Linked DNA regions of Homo sapiens: region 1 is linked to region 2. The links come from fine-mapping of genetic effects on gene expression. A gene starts in region 2. The other region holds a variant in brackets. All regions are shown on one strand. Distances are between the middles of the regions. Region 1 overlaps FRYL (FRY like transcription coactivator). Region 2 holds the start of FRYL (FRY like transcription coactivator).

What was found. PIP is the estimated chance that this variant, and not a neighbour inherited with it, causes the effect. A credible set is the group of variants that fine-mapping cannot tell apart.
Region 1: its variant is the best candidate, but not a certain one, in a credible set for the expression of FRYL in whole blood (TOPMed, PIP 0.80).

The regions. Positions count from the first base shown.
Region 1 is chr4:48,568,873-48,574,255 of GRCh38, forward strand. It overlaps FRYL (FRY like transcription coactivator), which reads right to left. Exons shown (of 64, transcript NM_015030.2): 26 at 4,314-4,371; 27 at 1,955-2,046. Among named protein-coding and RNA genes, the nearest start is that of ZAR1, 81 kb to the left of the region's middle. The variant A/T (reference allele first, on the strand shown) is at 2,850.
Region 2 is chr4:48,778,147-48,783,529 of GRCh38, forward strand. FRYL (FRY like transcription coactivator) reads right to left here and starts at 2,133. Exons shown (of 64, transcript NM_015030.2): 1 at 1,932-2,133. RefSeq lists silencers at 1,099-1,978, 2,069-2,178.

The sequences.
Region 1 (5,383 bases), 210 kb before region 2:
TTCATTACCTTCTATGTGTCAGGCACATGAAATCCACTAGGTGAACAAAACAAAGCTCCCTGTCTTCTTGGCATTCAGAATTCATTTTTTTCCGTAGCCATGAAAATTTAAAAATCCAGAATAGCAATAACTTTCTATTAATAACTCTTTAAAAAATACTTCAAAACAAAATACACAACTGGGTTCAAAAATCATTATTGCTTAATAGTCATATAGTTTTTGGTAATTTTAAATACAGCAAAATTTTGCAGTCCCCAAAATAGAACCATTCAAAGATTCTTCTACGAATGCTACAATTAAAGCAACCAAAGAAGATTCAGATGTGTATCAGGTTGTTAATTTTTTGCATCAAGCCCACAAGTTTCAATTTCACTTTTCCTAACTTTAACTCTTATTTTTTGTGGAGGAAAGAAAAGAGAATAGTATTTCTTTCTTTCTTTTTTTTTCTTTTGAGGCGGAGTTTCACTCTTCTCACCCAGGCTGAAGTGCAATGGCACTATCTTGGCTCACAGCAACCTCCACCTCCTGGGTTTGAGTGATTCTCCTGCCTCAGCCTCCCGAGTAGCTGAGACTACAGGCACGCATCACCGTGCCCAGCTAATTTTTGTATTTTTGGTAGAGACGGGGTTTCGCCATGTTGGCCAGGATAGTCTGACCTCAGGTGATCCGCCCTCCTTGGCCTCCCAAAGTGCTGGGATTACAGGTGTGAGCCACTGCATCGGCCAATATTTCTTTTTTTTATTTGCTTTTTATTAAGAAAGAAAAGTAAATCAATGGTTTAAATACTCTGATTAAAAATCTATTTTGAAAGTATTTGTCAAAAGCATTCAATGCTACATATGAAAGGTGTTCGGTAAAATAAATAATTGGGAGAAATGCTAAAGGAATAATGCTGTGCAGTTATCATAGTTACTACACTTGTTGGATTAATAATACTTCTTTTTTTTCCTTTTTGTTTCAAGACAAAGTCTCGCTCTTTTCCCAGGCTGCAGTGCAGTGGCATGGTCAAGGCTCACTGTAACCTCAATGTCCTGGGCTCAGGTGATCCTTCCACCTCAGCCTTCCAGGTATCTGGGACTACTGGTGTCTGCCACTATTCCTGGCTGATTGTTTGCGTTTTTTATAGAGATGGGATTTTGCTATGTTGCCTAGGCTGGTCTCCAACCCCTGGGCTCAAGTGATCCACCCATCTCAGCCTCCCAAAATGCTGGGATTACAGGCGTGAGCCACTGCACCTAGTCCATTTTTTTTTCCTTAAGATATCTTTTCAGTGACCTTTTTGGATATGGTCACATCTATTATATTTCTCCTTCAACGGTCAGGTAACACCATTATCCTCCTAAGGAAATAGTTATTTTTCAACATTCAGCTGATGGAATTTTCCTCAAGGGGCTGGGCTTAGTGTGAAGATGCCTTTACTGCGGCAATATCTCCAGGTTTCATGGTTTTATCTGTGAATGGTGGAAAACAGTTATGAATTATATTTGTAAGATTTCATAATTTTCCCTGGCAGGATAGATAGCAAGTTCATTTGAATAAATTTGTAAGCTTTACAATGTTTAGCCTGTGAATATATTATTTTTTCAAGCTCAGAAGAAAAACATCTTTAAAATGAGGTAAGAAAAAGGAAAATCTTTTTTCCTTTGTGACAGAAAAAGCTACCACTGTCCACTTGCCAAGATAACTAGGTTCCAACAAATATCAAAATCATAGGAACATTATATCCATTTTTTGCCAGAAGCAATCCAATTCTGGTAGTAGATTTTTCAATACATTTTTAGCTACTGGTCAGTGTATCGAATGCATATTTATTTGTTAAATAATTTTCACAGTGATACATACAGGTTTTCTTGTTGCAATGGTGCTTTTCTGTTTTTATACATTTCATGAGCGAAAAGAGATTACGTTCTCTAGGATCATTCCAGAGTTTTAACAATGTGAATCCAATACTGACCTGTGACTAATGACACCAGCATCTGCCAGCAGTTCAAATATTCGTACCAGTTGTACTCGTAAAATGTCTCGACGCCTGCGCCGTTTCATATTCTATTCCAAAGATACAAACACATTAATTAAAATCCTGCTGGTGTAACTTGGAAAGAATAATGTGACTGCCTCAGAGAGAGGTTCTGGGCTCATTGAAGTTATTTTGCTTGTACAGTGTAGACTGTGGGTACTCTGGTAGCTACTGCCTCAAAGAGGTATGAGTGAACAGTTTGAAATGAATGAGTCAAATAAGGTCACATGACATCTTACATGGTGACAACCCCTGTGTGTCAGGGGAAGTAAAATACTACATTTTTAGGTTATTTGCTAATCAGACAGTTTTGGAATTGAAGCAATTAGTAAACTGTTATCATGGAATTATAAGGAATCCCTAATACCCTCCCAAAAATATGACAGAAGTATAGGGAAAACAATCCTAAAAAGGACTTAAGATTTTGCTCATGCCACAGTTTTCTACACAACAATTTTGGCACAAAAAATATAAACAAATACAAGAAAAACTTCTTTACTCATTATGATATGAATAAATATGTTTGTATTACTAGGTCCAAAGAACTAGAATAATGCCCAGAATAATAGCTGTAACATTTCAACGTGATTCTGCTTCTAGCAGAAAGTCATGTAAGAGATATCAATCACCTATATCACCTTCTACTATAGGTCATTATTTCATTTGTGATGTAATTTTCATATTACAGAGCAAATTAAAACCATATTTACTAGTTGAAATTTCACTTTCTTGTCCATGACCCAATTTTTCTGCCTTCCAGGTGCATGATAATTTACTAATGACTAATCAATTACATTTACTTTTCTCTTGGCTCTTTCTAAAGTTGACAGCA[A/T]TTCATTTGAAACAGGATGATTTCTTATCAGTCTTTGAAGATTTCTGCAACTGGCTTTTGCAGTTTGGTTGGCCTGTTTTCATTTTGTCTTCACAGAAACAGTGTGAGTCTAAAGCTCTTCAACTATAACTCACATTCAAGGCACATCACTGCATGTGTTTAATAGCATTCCTTCTGAAATTCAGAAGAATAAATACTGCTATTTTGTTTTGTTTCAATCTCACATTTCTCTAACAAGTCATCCAGCACTGTAACCAAACTGATCATTCTGAAACAAAAATCAAATCAATGACAAAATAGGAATACTATCATGACCCTACAGTGCTGAATTAAAGGAGAATGAGGAATTGCAGATGATGTTTCAAAGTCCCTAAACTGCAGGGATTATCACCATCTCCCTCTCCTGCTTAAATTCCTCAGGGCATCCCCAACATTAACAGCACTGATTCCCAAACAATGTTCTACAGCAGACTCATCTAAGATGCTTTACAAAAACAGACTTCTGGACCCTATTCCAGGGATTCTCATTCAATAGACCCAGGAGTCTAAAATTTTTAGCAAGCTCCCCAGGTAACTCTCAGATGCCACAGGCACAGGAACTACTGTTCTACTGGTTAAAGCTAAAGCTAGTAGTTTTTCATGAGATATTTCTCATCTTGCTATCCAGCCTAATATTCAATCACTTCCCCCATAATATAACTACACAGAAAAATTTGCAATTTCAAAATTCTTTGTAAAGTTTGCAAATGCTGTTCTTTGCCTAGAATACCTTTTTCCCTTGTTTGTCCACTGAGGAACGTGCTTCAAAATTCATCTGAAATATCAGCACTTCATCTATAATGCCTTCCTTACCCTGCAACCAGAGTCCCAGGCTTTCTTCTCTGTAGTTCTTAGAATCTCTTCTCTATGATTTTACTTGAGTGCGTAATAAATTGTTAGAATTAAGGTTTTCATAACCATCTGTCCCACTGGACCTATAGTTTCTGAAAGCTGCTCAGAACCTGTAGATTTGGGAATCTAGGCTCAGTCTTGTGAAACTACATCCCATGGGCCAAATCTGGCCCACTGCTACCTGTCGCTGCAAATTTTTTACTGTTTTACTGGCAAACAGCCACACTCCTTTTTTTATGTAGTTTACGAACGCTTTCATGCTACAAAGGCAGGGCTGAGTAGAGACAGTATGGCCTGTAAAGCCGAAAATATTTACCATCCGGTCCTTTGCAGAAAAAGTTTGCCAACTCCATTCTAGACCCTATTTTCTGCCCTCACTTAAGTTAAAGCAATTTTTCATCCGTTTTACATAATGGGTTTCTGCATAAGATCTTCTGCGGGGAGGGGAAGTGTCTGCATCTTAAAAAGAAGAATACACTAGATAGTCTTCGTAATTTCTAACTTTTGATATAACATGTAAATATGGCAGAAAAATGAATGTTCACTAATACAAGGCTGCAGAACACAGCTCACCTCTGGCCTTCTTTCGAGTGCTTCTTTAATTATGGGATGTAATTCCTCTATTAGTTCCCTGGAAGAAAAATGGTACATATTCTATTAATAGCTACACAGATATAATCTGACACAGGTAAATATGTAAAAACATGATGTAAACTGACAAGTGTTAATTCCAATCCTACTGTTTTAAACACAATGTCTATTTTTTTATTTGGTTTATAAAATAACACATTATATTATAGACTATTTGGAAACCAGAAAAAAAATGGTATAGGCCTCTTATTTTAATTTATAGAGGGAATACTACCAATATTTTTATTCAATCAGTTTGCAATCCACATACGTTTTACTTAGTTGAAACTGTTTTATATAAAATGGTATCCTTTTTTATTTTTTGAGATGGAGTTTCGCTCTTGTTGCCCAGGCTGGAGTGCAATGGCGTGATCTCGGCTCACTGCAACTTACGCCTCCCGGATTCAAGTGATTCTCCTGCCTCAGCCTCCTGAGTAGCTGGGATTACAGGCATGCACCACTATGCCTGGCTAATTTTTTGTATTTTTAGTAGAAACAGGGTTTCTCCATGTTGGTCAGGCTGGTCTCAAACTCCCGACCTCAGGCGATTTGCCCGCCTCAGCCTCCCAAAGTGTTGGGATTACAGGTGTGAGCCACCGCGCCTGGCCTATTTTTCTTTTCTTACACTAACATAGTTAATTTTATATGCCAATAATTAATTCATGATATTCGAACATAGGGTGGGGTACCATAATTTTCCTAGACATTTTCATTTATTAATGAATCATTTTATTTTATCTAATTTTCTCTTACTAAAAATATTGCCTCTGTGAACAACTTTGTACATTTTTCACTGTTTTCGTTTCTATCCCCTTAGGATTAATTTTACAAATTAAATTAATGGGTCAAAGGGTATGAACTTTGTAAAAATGATAAATTTCTCTTTATTTATATTTTGATTTTAAATTGAAAATGTGCTTATTTTAAGATTGGGAAAATCTGAAAAAACATAAGAAGAAAAAAATCATCCACAATTTAATCATGTATCGAAAACTGCTGACCTTTAAAAGTGT
Region 2 (5,383 bases):
ATTTCCTAAATTCTGTGAGAAGAATAGATTTTTATTTCAAACATTATCTGATATTGGCTTCCAATTTCCCAAGTAGTTTCTCTATTGTTACTGCTGAGCCTGTGAATTTACAATGTTCCACACCACTCCGAAGTTACTAGACAATAAATTAATCGATGAACGCTTTAAAAAGTTGGACTGCTTTAATAAAAAAAAAAAAAACTGGGTCACATGTTCCAACAGAATTCCCTCTTTTAGAGAACTAATTTTACAAAATAATTCAGAGTGGAAGACAAGACACGATGGAATGCTATTTTTGATAATGAGTAGCAGAAAAAAGACCAGAGAATAACACACCCACTGCTACTTTGTTTATACGGTTGTAACTTGCACATGCAAGTACTCTACATAAAGTATTGCACAAGAAGAAACTGTCAAAAATGAATGCTTATGAAAACATTCTTCACTAAGGCCTCTAACAAGGAATGTGCTATCTCTGATTTCCTCGGCAAGTATTGACAGATTAAGCAGAGTGATAATGCTCAAGATGAAAAGACGTCTTATACTAGTTTTTATCAATAGTAAAAGCTGTTGGTACTAATTATAATGGCTGTAAATTCAGTAGCAGAATCAACTTTACAGACGATATCTCCTAGGCAGCACAGCATTTTATAAAACCAACTTTACTTCCATCAAAACCCTTTTTCCCCCCCAATCCGACAGACCCTGGCAACCTGTCTTGCTGTGTCTTTTTTCCCCTACCCTTCCAAAAGAACCCCAGCCAGTGAATCGAAGTAATATTTTCCGCAGTTCAAAGGTAAGGGCAAACTCAGCTCTACTAAGAACTCTTGCTCCTCACCAGCACACACCCTAACCCCCACCCCCTTTTTTTTCTTTTCAAATCTTGGCCTAGGAAAGATTAATGCTCCCATATCATTGCAAATCCACAAAAATGCGATTTTAGGTGGCGAGGAACTAAACTAGGATGGCAGGAAAGACCGGCAGCAATAAATCATTTCGCCCTAGAAACCAGCCTCTCCAGAACGCAGGAAACCAGGCTGTGCCCAAAGAACCTGCCGCCCGGAAGCAACAACTTCCATCAAACGGCAAATAAAAGTTGCAAAGAAGAGCTCAGCGCCCAGGCACCCTGCCCGGTGCCGAGGCTGAGAGCAGCAGGCAATCTACAGGCCGAGTCAGCTCGCGGGCGGTGGCCGCGGTGTCCGCAGGGCTGGCTCCGGCTCCGGAAGACTCCGGGTCCCGGGGTACGCCAACGGCCCGGGGCTGCGCGGGCACAGCGCCCGCACCCCTCCCCAGGACCGCGAGCAGTGGGCGGAGAGACCAGAGCAAGGGAAAAGGCGGACAATGCCCGGCTGGGCTGGCGCGCTCCGCCGGTCCCCGCCAGCCCTGCCCGCCGGGGCCCGCCAGCCGCCGCGCTAAGTTTGCTCCTCAGCCCTCCCTTCCCAGCCGAGGCGGCGGAGCCGTGGTCGCCGGTCTTCCTCCACCTCTGCCACCGCCTTCCTTCCCGCGGGGCGGCTCCCGCGAGTCGGTGGCGAGGCGGCGCGCGACCAGAGCAGGACGCGCGAGAAGGCGGCGCGCGAGGGGTACCCGGGCGCGCGCGAGAAGAGCCAGGCACTGGAGGGGAAGGGGACGTGCGGGAGAGACGGGCGCGCGGCGCTGCCGGCGGAACCGCCGGAGCTCGGGCGGGCTTTCGGTTGAGGCTGGGGTTGCGCCGCGGTTTGGTGTCCGTTACGAGCGCCGGCCCGGGCCGCGCCGCGCCGCTTGCCAGCCATCCTGGACCGCCTTCCCTCGGCGCCCACCAGGAAGGACAGCTGGCGAGGGCCGACGACCTCGTCTCCCGCCCAGGCTGGGCTGCCGGCGGCGGGCATCCCGGCGCCTGCCCCGGGGCTGGAAGAGAAAGTAAAATGAAGCGCCTTTCCCCAGTCAACACCTACCCGTTCCCAGTCCTAGTACAGCTGCCTCGCTCCTCCAGCGCCGCCGGTCCCCGCCCTCGGGCCCCTGGCTCCGTTCTCTTGACAATGGCGCGTCCCCTTTAAGGAATAATCCGATCGGAACCGATCTGTGGTTAAACCTCCCTCCGACTCTGATTTTAACCGGATTTCTCTCTCGCTCTCTCCCAGAGCCCGACGGGCGCCCGGCTGTGCTGCGAGGTCTTCCCACCCCTTCCCTACCCCGCCCGCCCCCTGGCCTTCCTGATTGGCGAGAAACACTACAACAGGAACAGCAGTCCTCGCCCTCCACTGGCCTGGCCAGCCGCCGCTCAAAGTTGCTCCTACCTTCTCCCCGCCCCTTTTCCCGGGTTGGTCTTCCCTCTAATCATTCTCTGCCCTCGCCTCTAACGTTGCTTTGGAGCCCTGGCAGTCAAGGCTCACCCTCCCGCCTCCGGAAAGCGAACTTTATTTTTATTGGTGAAAGGACATCTTCCTGTACACTTGATTGGGCAAGGAAAGAGCTAGTCTGCACGCTCCCTACCATTATTACTCTCTCTTTACGGGCTTGAGAAACACAGCCGCAAAGTCCTCTCCGCTTTGCCTTCTAGGAGCGACTTTACCTTTAAATGTTGTTAGGGGTCGAGGACAAACTCATATCCTATATTGAGGAAAGCTGGAAAGGGACAAGAGAAAAATTCAAAATTTTCTCCCGATCAGTAATGTATCCAGAGCTGGCGCCCGGATCCTGCGGAACCTTATCCAATGATCCAGAGAATGGAATGGTTAGAATTGAGTTAGAATACCTGAAAGTCCAGTGCTAATTCCTCCTGAGATTTACTCAACAAGTTTCATCCACTGTCCGCCCTACTCATACCATTGATTGCACTGGCATTTTGCCACCCGGAAGAGCTTTAATCAAGTTATCTGCAAACCTGGAGGTTTCCTTGCTTGTCTCGCAATTGTTCATTTAGAAAATCATTTCCATTACAAGTTCCGTTTAAGTCACGTCCTCTGTGACGTTCCCGCGTTTCCACGAGACCTGTTACTTTTTTGAAAAAATTAAGTAGATGGTACCCTTATGCCATCCTCAAAGTGTAGGACTTCGTTCCCCCTTGCTAGAACTGTAGGAAAAACACCCCAGGTCACTTGAACAACTGAGATGCCTCTCAGGAGAAAACGAGTCTGTCTAAGGGAAAGAGGGAATCTGATACCAGAAGCTTGACCATGGAGCAGAACCTCACGCATTGAAAAGAGAAGAAATTATGGGGAAGCCTAGTGCGGGGTCTGCTTTAGAGTTTCCCCAGTTTCCCACTGGAGCTGTAAGAACTAAAAGGTTTATTTCCACTAAAATTGAGTACAGGTACAGCTTCGGTACCCATCTAAGAATGTTAGGGGAAAATGGTTATGTGTTCTCTCCCTCTTTGCCGATGAACCTTGAAGACTGTGTACCCCGGGGGCTTTAGTACATTTGCAGTGATACCCCAGTATAATCTAATGGTGCCAAGGAAGTGTCAGTGCTCAGCAGTACCCTAGAAAAGGGGCTTGATGATGACAGAGAAGGGTAAGTAAACATCAGTAGTTGGTAGTTCATAGGACTTTTCCCCAAATACAGGTGAAAAATTTCATGAGGATTCCCGAAAATATGAAAGAGCAGGAAACAAAAGGGAACGTTGCAGGAAGGTGGTTTAGGTATCACTAGTGGGGGCAAGAGACGATGAACTATCTGGGTTGCATTTATATGGCCTTCACAGATACACACATCCTCCCTATTAAGTCCCTATAACTAAATCCCTATGCTTAGCCTATTCTGATTTTACTGTATAATAAAACTGCAGCCAAGCTAAACTAATACTTCTGGTTTACTCACTTACCACTCTCAAACTCTGAGACTGCTTCTGGGTTCTAATATTCTACATTAGAATATAAGAAGAAGAAGATACTATGTACTGATATCTAGTATGATCTTCTGGAGATAAAGATATCCAGTGTTTCAGGCATGTACACACCTGCAGCTTTTGTTCAAGGTCTAAGTGATGTTTTCAGGTTCTTTCTAAAACACCTGCCCTATGATATCCAGCTTGTTACTGCCCTCTTTTGCTGCACTAGCAGACTGGGCATATAAACTAGAGAAGGCAGTCTACAGTAACCTCTAGATTCTCTTACTTGCATTGAACCAACTATGCTGAGATTATCACCTTTCAAGTATAATTTGTGTTATTCTTTTCTCTAAATATTTCATATTTGCCCACAATAGGATCATTTATCACTTTTTAGCCCACACATGCAACTTCCTGGTACTAATACTCCTACTGGCATTTCACAGCAAAGAAGAATTTTAAAAATCTACAAACCTGGAGCTTACAACGTAGAGGTTATTCTTAAGAATGTTCAGTGTTGATGAACACAGCCCCAGTTCTAACCCTGGAGAATTTTACAAGTTGTACTTTCTCATTCAGAGAGACTTTATCTCTCTACCTTAGTTTCTCATTCTAAGCCCAATCCCCACTCTTTAAAAAAAGAATATTTCTCGGCTGGGTGCAGTGGCTCACGCCTGTAATCCCAGCACTTTGGGAGGCCAAGGCAGGTGGATGACTTGAGGCCAGGAGTTCAAGACCAGCCTGGGCAACATGGCGAAACCCCATCTCTGCAAAAAATACAAAAATTAGCTGGTGGGAATGGTCACAGGCCTGTGATCCCAGCTACTGGGGAGGCTGAGGCAGGAGAATCACTTGAACCCGAAAGGCGAAGGTTGCAGTGAGCCAAGATTGCACCACTGTACTCCAGCCTGGGCGACAGAGTCTCACTCTGTCACACACACACACACACACACACACACACACACACACACCCTTCTCCAATGTGCTAATGTAAATAAAGCTTTTTAAATTATTGTATATAGATGTTTGTTAAAGTCTTTTAAATGGTGAAATACCTCCAGGCACCATGGCTCACACCGTGCCAGTAATCTCAGCACTTTGTGAGGCCGAGGCAGGCAGATCACCTCAGGTCAGGAGTTCAAGACCAGCCTGGCCAACATGGTGAAACCTCGTCTTTACTAAAAATACAAAAATTAGCCGGGCGTGGTGGCGCATGCCTGTAATTCCAGCTACTCGGGAGGCTGAGGCAGGAGAATGGCTTGAACTCGGGAGGCGGAGGTTGCAGTGAGCTGAGATCGCACCACTGCACTCCAGCCTGGATGACATAGCAAGACTCCGTGTCAAAAATAAAAAATACAAAAAAAGTGAAATATGTTATGATCACTATTCTCCCTGTTTATATGCAAATGTACCCCTCAAAGAGGTTCCATAGTTTAACCAGTAATTATTTTTCCTCTGAAAAATTATGTTACCATTCCTATTGGAAATTCTTTCCAGTTCACCACACACTTATATAGCGACTATTATGTGTTAAGAATAGTGAGAAAATGGGGGCCAAGTGCAGTGGCTCACACCTGT